Homo sapiens: one gene and its partner. The protein of the gene in region 1 purifies or fractionates together with the protein of each later gene. This does not show direct contact. Each region holds a gene or a part of one and is shown in the gene's direction. Other genes may lie near its edges.

The links.
Region 2: the proteins of KIF17 (region 1) and KIFAP3 purify together in Homo sapiens (co-immunoprecipitation; one large-scale study listed by IntAct). This does not show direct contact.

Annotation. Positions count from the first base shown.
Region 1 is NC_000001.11:20,715,908-20,719,507, reverse strand, and holds the start of KIF17 (kinesin-like protein KIF17), read left to right. Parts: upstream 1-1,500; 5' UTR 1,501-1,801; coding exon 1,802-2,032; exon of another isoform or gene 2,033-2,159; intron 2,160-3,600. UniProt on the Homo sapiens protein: Dendrite-specific motor protein which, in association with the Apba1-containing complex (LIN-10-LIN-2-LIN-7 complex), transports vesicles containing N-methyl-D-aspartate (NMDA) receptor subunit NR2B along microtubules.
Region 2 is NC_000001.11:170,067,935-170,071,950, reverse strand, and holds part of KIFAP3 (kinesin-associated protein 3), read left to right. Parts: intron 1-3,033; exon of another isoform or gene 3,034-4,016. UniProt on the Homo sapiens protein: Involved in tethering the chromosomes to the spindle pole and in chromosome movement. Binds to the tail domain of the KIF3A/KIF3B heterodimer to form a heterotrimeric KIF3 complex and may regulate the membrane binding of this complex.

The DNA of each region.
Region 1 (3,600 bases):
TGCACTGGCAACCTGGGCTTGCTTTCTGCTTCTGCAATGTGCCACAGGACCTCCGCACAGCCCAGACCGGCGTCCTCCTCCTCCTCCCTTCCCTTCACCTTGTTAACCACTCAGCCATCATATTTCAGCTCCAGTCAATCTCAGGATGCCTGCCCTACACCCTGGGCTGAGTGAGGTTCCTTTTTTAGATGTTCCATAGGCTGGGTGCAGTGATTCGTGCTAGTAATCCCAGCACTTTTGGAGGCCGAGGTGAGAGGATCGTTTGAGTCCAGAAATTGGAGACCAGCCTGGGCAACAAAATGAGATCCCATCTCTACAAAAAATTAGCCACTCGGGAGGCTGAGTTAGGAGGATCGCTTGAGACCTCCTGAGGTTGAGGCAGCAGTGAGCTATGATTGCACTCCAGCCTCAGTGACAGGGCAAGACCCTGTCTCAAAAAAAGATATGTTGCATGGAACTGATTATTCAGCTTGTAATTACATTTTCGTTTTCGGGATTTTGTTTGTGGGATTTTGTTTCCTGTGTCTGTCTCTCCAGCTAGATCATGCAGGAGGGCTGTCTCCCTAACATCTGTCACGGTGCCTGACATGTAGCCGACACTCAGTGTTTCAGTGCAAGGAAGAGCCCAGCGCCCAGAGGTGTGACGGAGGTGCTCTTTTGGCTGGGGAACTTGCACTGAGCCAGGAGGGATAGGCCAGGCAGCCTTCCATCCAAAAGACTTGTTTTTGTTTGTTTGTTTGTTTTAGATGGAATTTTGCTCTTGTTGCCCAGGCTGGAGTGCAATGATGCAATCTCAGCTCACTGCAACCTCTGCCTCCCGGGTTCAAGTGATTCTCCCGCCTTAGCCTCCTGAGTAGCTGGGATTACAGGTGCCCACCACCAGAGACGCGGGTTTCACCATGTTAGCCAGGCTGGTCTCGAACTCCTGATGTCAGGTGATCCACCCGCCTTGGCCTCCCAAAGTGCTGGGATTACAGACGTGAGCCACCGCGCCCGGCCCAAAAGACTTGCTCCCAAAGTGTTTGTTTTACAATCTCGGGTCTTAGAAATAACACGGGTGGCATGAGAGGAAGCTGTCCAGGGGCTGTGGGTGGTGGGCAGCCTTTCCCTGAGCCAGTACGGGGACGTGGATAAGGGGCAACAGGTCCTTGCCGCTTTTCCTAGGTCCCTGGCCCGTGCCTGAGGCCTGGGATCTCTGTAGCCCCGAGGTGGAGTCAAGCCTGGGGCCCCGGGCCCCAGTCTTAGCCGCAGCCTCGGGCAAGCTGCGTAACATCTCTGAACTGGGACTGTGCGGATTCGAGAAGGCAGCGGACGCGAAAGGAGCCCAGCCAGGGCTGGCGCTTCCCGCAAGCGGCCGCGCGTGGCTGCGGGGATCACTCGGGCGAAGCTCGCGGGCCAGGCGGGGCGTTCCCGGGGCCGCTCTTGTGACGCCACGGGCGTTGCCCAGCAACCGCGAACGCCGCGGCGGTGAGCTTGCGGGCAGGCGGCTGGGGCGGCTCCGGGCTCGGGTTCTGCGGCGGCGCCTGCAGCGCGGATCCCCCACGTCCCCGCTCGGGCCGGGCCTCAGAAACGGGCGAGCCCGGGCGCGGGAGGAAGCGGCGGCCCCGGCTCGGGTCCTGCGACGCCCAGCTCCCCTCCGGGGCGCCCCCCGAGGGGTCCCCGCCCCCCGCCGCGGCCCCGCCCCTGCCTCAAGGCCCCGCCCCCCGTGGCCGGCGCTGGCCCCGCCCCTTGGCCCGGGCTGCTGGGAGTCCCCGGCGGGGCGGGGGTCAGCTCTGGTCCCGTTGGTCCTGGGCGCGGCGCCATGGCCTCCGAGGCGGTGAAGGTTGTCGTGCGCTGCCGTCCCATGAACCAGCGGGAGCGAGAGCTGCGCTGCCAGCCCGTGGTGACTGTGGACTGCGCGCGCGCCCAGTGCTGCATCCAGAACCCGGGCGCCGCCGACGAGCCGCCCAAGCAGTTCACCTTCGACGGCGCCTACCACGTGGACCACGTCACCGAGCAGATCTACAACGAGATCGCCTATCCGCTGGTGGAGGTGAGGGCGCCCGGCAGGCCGCCCTGCAGGCGGCAGGGCATGAGGCCGCCCCGAGAGTCCCCAGGGGGCTGCGCTGCCCCCCAGCCAGGAGGAAAGGCCCTCGAGGGGCGCAGGCGGACGGGAACAGGTAGGTCCGGAGGCTTTTGTCCAGGCGGGACACAACCAGAGCCTGCCTCTAATGTCGCCTCCGGGTCTGCACTATCCCCAGCGTCTCCGCCTCCCGGGTTCAAGCGATTCTCCTGCCTCAGCCTCCCAAGTAGCTGGGATTACAGGTGCCTGCCACCACGCCCGTCTAATTTTTGTGTTTTTAGTACAGATGGGGTTTCACCATGTTGGCCAGGCTGGTCTCGAACTCCTGACCTCAAGTGATCCGCCCGCCAAGTGCTGGGATCACAGGCATGAGGCACCGCGTCCGGCCGAATGGTGACTTTTTATCTTCCCTCACTGGCAAGATGGGGCACACCTAGCCCTGTTTTGGTTACAGCATGGGTCTTTGCAGTGGAACCGGGCATAGATGCCATGTGGGCCCTTGGGGTCTCAGAACAATTCTCTGGGCCAATCTACCCATACAGGATCCACCCCAAGCCCACACTAAGGTCTAGAATTTGCAAGCTCATGAGCTCTGCAAGGGCAGGAACTGTGTCTGCCTCGTTCACCACTTTGTCCGTAGGCTGAGCATAGTCCCTGTCGAATGAATAGAAACAGCGATGAATGAAGAATGACTTTGGGAATGACTTTGGGAACAGCACCGGGTTTGCCTCCTCTCTTCCTTCCAGGCCTCATCTTCCACCCCTCCCCTAGTCCCTCCTGCTCTCCACACCTCATCTGTGTGGCTTTACTCAAGCTGACCCCTCAGCCTGGAATGCCTTCCTCTTCCTGTCACCTGGCAAAGTACGAGCCCCACTCCCAGCTCCCCCAGTTCTCCCTGTCTTTGCCGCCTGGAAAGCTGTGCTTCGTTCTTCCTGTGCCATCCTGTTTTCGCTTCTTTGTACTCCCTGTCCCTGCCGGCTGGCTGCCTGGACTCTTGTCGCTGTGTGCCCCGCCCCATAGCCCGCCACGAGAATCACCTGTACGTGTCCAGCTCCCTGCATTGCAGGCAGACATTGGGCCATCACCTGTGTATGGCAGTGCTTCCTGTGCCCATGCACGAAAGAAGCCCTGTATGCACCCTGTGAGAGCCCCGCAGGTGCTGCTCTTACCCTTTAAGATATTGATTTTTTTTTTTTTTTTTTTTGAGACGGAGTCTCGCGCTGTCGCCCAGGCTGGGGTGCAGTGGCACGACCTCGGCTCACTGCAATCTCCTGGGTTCAATAAATTCTCCTGCCTCAGCCTCCCGAGTAGCTGGGACTGCAGGAGCTCACCACCACACCCGGCTAATTTTTCGTATTTTTAGTAGAGACAGGGTTTCACCGTGTTGCCAAGGCTGGTTTTGAACTCCTGACCTCAGGTAATCTGCCCACCTCAGCCTTCCAAAGTGCTGGGATTACAGGCATGAGCCACCCCGCCTGGCCCAAGGTGTTTTTCTTATCATCTTATCAATTTGCCTCAGTAAGGCCAGCCCAAGGGCA
Region 2 (4,016 bases), about 150 Mb from region 1:
CTATATGAAAAAAGTGTGTGGCTTTTGTGTCAAGCATTTCTCACATGGTATATCAAGGTCCATCTGTGTGGTAGCATGTATCAGTACTTCATTCCTTTATATAGCTGCATAATATTTGCTGTGGTTTGGATATAGTTCGTTTCCACCAAAGCTCATGTTAAAACTTGGTCCCCCATTGTGGCAGTGTTGGGAGCTGGAGCCTGGGAGGTGTTTCAGTTTTGGGGGTGGATCCCTCATGAATGGCTTGGTGCTGTTCTTGCTGGAGTGAGTGAATTCTTGCTCTAGTGAGACTGGATTAGCTCTCTTGGGAATGGATTAGTTCCCTCTAGAGTTGGTTGTTATAAAGCCAGGAAGACCCTTGGGTATTCTCTTTTCTCACTTCCCCTTTGATCTTGTCCACTGTGTTATAATGAAGCACAAAAGCCCTCACTGGAAGCCAGAGTCATGCCCTTGAACTTCCCAGCCTGCGGAACTGTAAGCTAAATAAACCCCTTTTCCTTATAAATTACCTAGTCTCAGGTATTGTGTTATAGCAACATAAAATTGACTAATTCAGTATTCCATTTTATGGATATACCACATTTTGTTTGTTTATTGCTCATCTGGTGGTGGACATTTGGGTTGTTTCTACCTATTGGCTATTGGGAATAAAGCTGCTGTGAACATTACTGTACAAGTTTTTGTTTGAACACTTGTTTTGTATCTTTTGGTGTATACCTAGGCCTGGAATTGCCAGACCATATGGTAATTCTATGTTTAATTCATTGAGGAACCACTAAAGTGTTTTCCCTAGTGACTGCACCATTTTACATTCCCACCAGCAATGTATAAGAATTCAGTTTTCCGTATCCTCACTAACACCTGTTATTTTCTGTTCTGTAATTATTACTATACTAGTGGATATCAAATGGTATCTTATTTTGGTATTGATTTGCCTTTCCCTAATTACTAATGACATTGAGCTTTTCATGTGCTTCTTGGCCATTTGTCTTTATTCTTTGGGAAAAGGAGTTCTTTGTAATAGAACCTTGTCAGATACATGATTTACAGATACTTTGTCCCATTCTGTGGGTTTTCTTTGCACTATCTTGGTATGTAAAACTTTCATATGCAAACATTTTTAATTTTGGTGAAGTCTAATTTATTCTTTTGTTGCTCATGCTTTTGGCATCGTTATTTAAGAAACCACTGCTAAATCCAAGGTCATGAAGGTTTGTCCCTCTGTTTTCTTCTAAGAGTTTTACAGTTTTAGCTTTTACATTTAATATCCTTGATCCATCTCGAGTTAGTTATTGTCTATGGTATATGGCAAGGGTCCATCTTCATTCTTTTATATGTGACTATCTAGTTGTTCTGACATCATTTGTCAGAACAAATGTCAGAAAAGAACAATTGACTGTTCTTTTCCTCCATGAATGGTTTGGGCAATTTTTTTGAAAATTAAATGACCAAAAATGTTGGGGTTTATTCCTGCACTCTCAATTATATTTCATTGATCTATCTGTCCGTGTGCTAGTACCTCACTGTTTTGATTACTGAAGCTTTGTAGTGAGTTTTGAAATCCAGAAGTGTGAGTCCTCCAACTTTGTTGTTCTTTTTCAAGGTTGTTTCAGCTATTTAGGGTTCCTTATATTTCCATTTGAATTTTAGGGTTGGCTTTTTCATTTCTGCAAAAAAAGCTATTGAAACTTTGGGAATATAATGAATCTATAGATCACTTTGGGGAATATTGCCATCTTAACAATATTAAGTCCTTCAGTCCATGAACATGTGATTTCTTTTCATTTAGTTCATATTAATTTCTTTCAGCAACTTTTTGTTTTCAGTATACAGTTGTTCCTTGGTTACGTTTACTCCTGAGTATTTTATTCTTTTTGATGCTATTGGAAATGAAGTTTTCTAAATTTCCTTTTCATATTTTTCAGCTCCAATATGTAGAAAAACAGTGGATTTTTTTGGTGTGTTCTGATCTATTCTCCAACTTTGCTGAATTTATTAGCTCTAGCCAGTTTTTTGTGCCATTTTTAGAATTTTCTATATATAAGATTATGTCTTCTGCAGATAGAAATAATTTTACTTCTTCTTTTTCAATCTGGATGCCTTTTTATTTTTTTTTCCCATGCCTCATTGCTCTGGCTAGAATTTCCAGTACTATGTTGAATAGAAGTCAGGAAAGTGGATAAACATTCTTGTCTTGTTCCTGATCTTAGGGGGAAAGCTTTCATTCTTTCACCATTGAGTATGATATTGGCTGTAGATTTTTCATATATGCCCTTTATTATGTTAAGGGACTTTTCTTCTATTCCTAATTTATCAAGTACTTTTATCATGAAAAGATGTTGGGTTTTGTCAGATGCTTTTTTCTGCATCGATTGAGATAATCATGTACTTTTTTTCTTCATTCCATTAATGTGGTGTATTGTATTGAAATGCCCATGTGGCCATGTTGCGTGGTCCTTTTAATATACTCCTGTATTCTGTTTGCTAGTATTTTGAGGATTTTCACATCGACATTCATAAAGGGTATTGGTCTAAAGGTTTTCCTGTAGTGTCTTTGTCTTGCTTTGGTATCAGGGTAATGGTGGCCTCATGGAATGAATTAGGAAGTGTTTCCTCTACTGTTATATCTTTTGGAAGAGTTTGAGGGGTATTTATGTTAATTTGTCTTTAAATGCTTGGTAGAATTCACCAGTGAAGCCATCTGGTACTGGACTTGTTGAAAGGTTTATGATTACTGATTCAATCACCTTACTTCTAATTCTGTTCAGATTTTCTGTGTCTTTTGAGTCAGTTTTGGTAGTTTGTGTGTTTCTAGGAATTATTCTTTTTCATGTAGGTTATCCAATTTGTTGGTGTTCATATTATTCTCTTGTAATTTTTTAATCATCAAAAGAGCAGCAGTAATGTCCCACTTTCATTTCTGATTTTAGTAATTTGAGTCTCTTCTTTTCTTTTTTAGTCAGTCTAACTAAAAGTTTTCCAAAAATGTTTGTTGATCTTTTCAAAGAACTAACCTTTGGTTTCATTTTCTCTATTCTTTTTCTAGTCTCTGTTGCTGCTTTTTATTATTTCCTTCTGCTAGCTTGGGGTTTTGTTTGCTCTTCTTTTTCTAGCCCCTTAAGGTGTAAAATTAGGTTATTAATTCAAAATCTTTTATTTATTTTTTTAAATAGAGCGTCAGTATAGAGTGTCTTATTGTGGATCTGTTTGAGTTTATCTTTGAATTTCATTGAGCTTCTTGGATGTGTAAGTTTGTCTTTGGTCTAATTTGGGAAGTTTTTGACTGTTTTTTCTCCCAGTATTCTCTATGTTTCTTTCTTCCTCTCCTTTCATACCCTCATTATGCATATGTTGGTATACTAGATGGTGTTCCATAAGTCTCTTAGGTTCTGTTTATTTTTCTTCATTCTGTTTTCTTTCTGTGCCTCAAAATGGACAGTTTCATTTGACATATCTTCAAGTTTGCTGATTCTTTTCTCTCTCTGCTCAGATCTGCTGTTAAAAACCCTGTAGTGATTTTTTTATTTCAGTTATTGTACTTTTCAGATCTAGTGTTTTTGTTTGGATCCTTATGATAATATATTTTTAAACTATTTATGTGTTGAGACATTGTGTTTCTCCTTTTTCTTAGTTATTTGCACTGGTTTCTTTTTGCTCTTTGGACATATTTAAGACAGTTGATTTAAAGTCTTTGATAAGTCCAGTGTTTGTGCTGTAGCATGGACAGTTTCTGTTAATTTTTTTTATTGTGAGAATGAGAATGAGTTTCTTGTTTCTTTGCATGTTTCATATTTTGTTTTGTTGAAAACTGGGTATTTTGAATATTATGGTATCCAAAGGAAAAAAAGAAAAGAAAAAAATACTCTTCAGATCTTTGTAGGTTGACTCAGTGTTTGGATATGGCTTCAACACTTAGCCAGGCAATTTACAATTTTACCTTAGCCTTCATTTGCTGCTTGCACAGAGCCTGAAGACCAGCCAGAGGTAAAAGCTTATGATCTTCCCAGGTTTTTTCT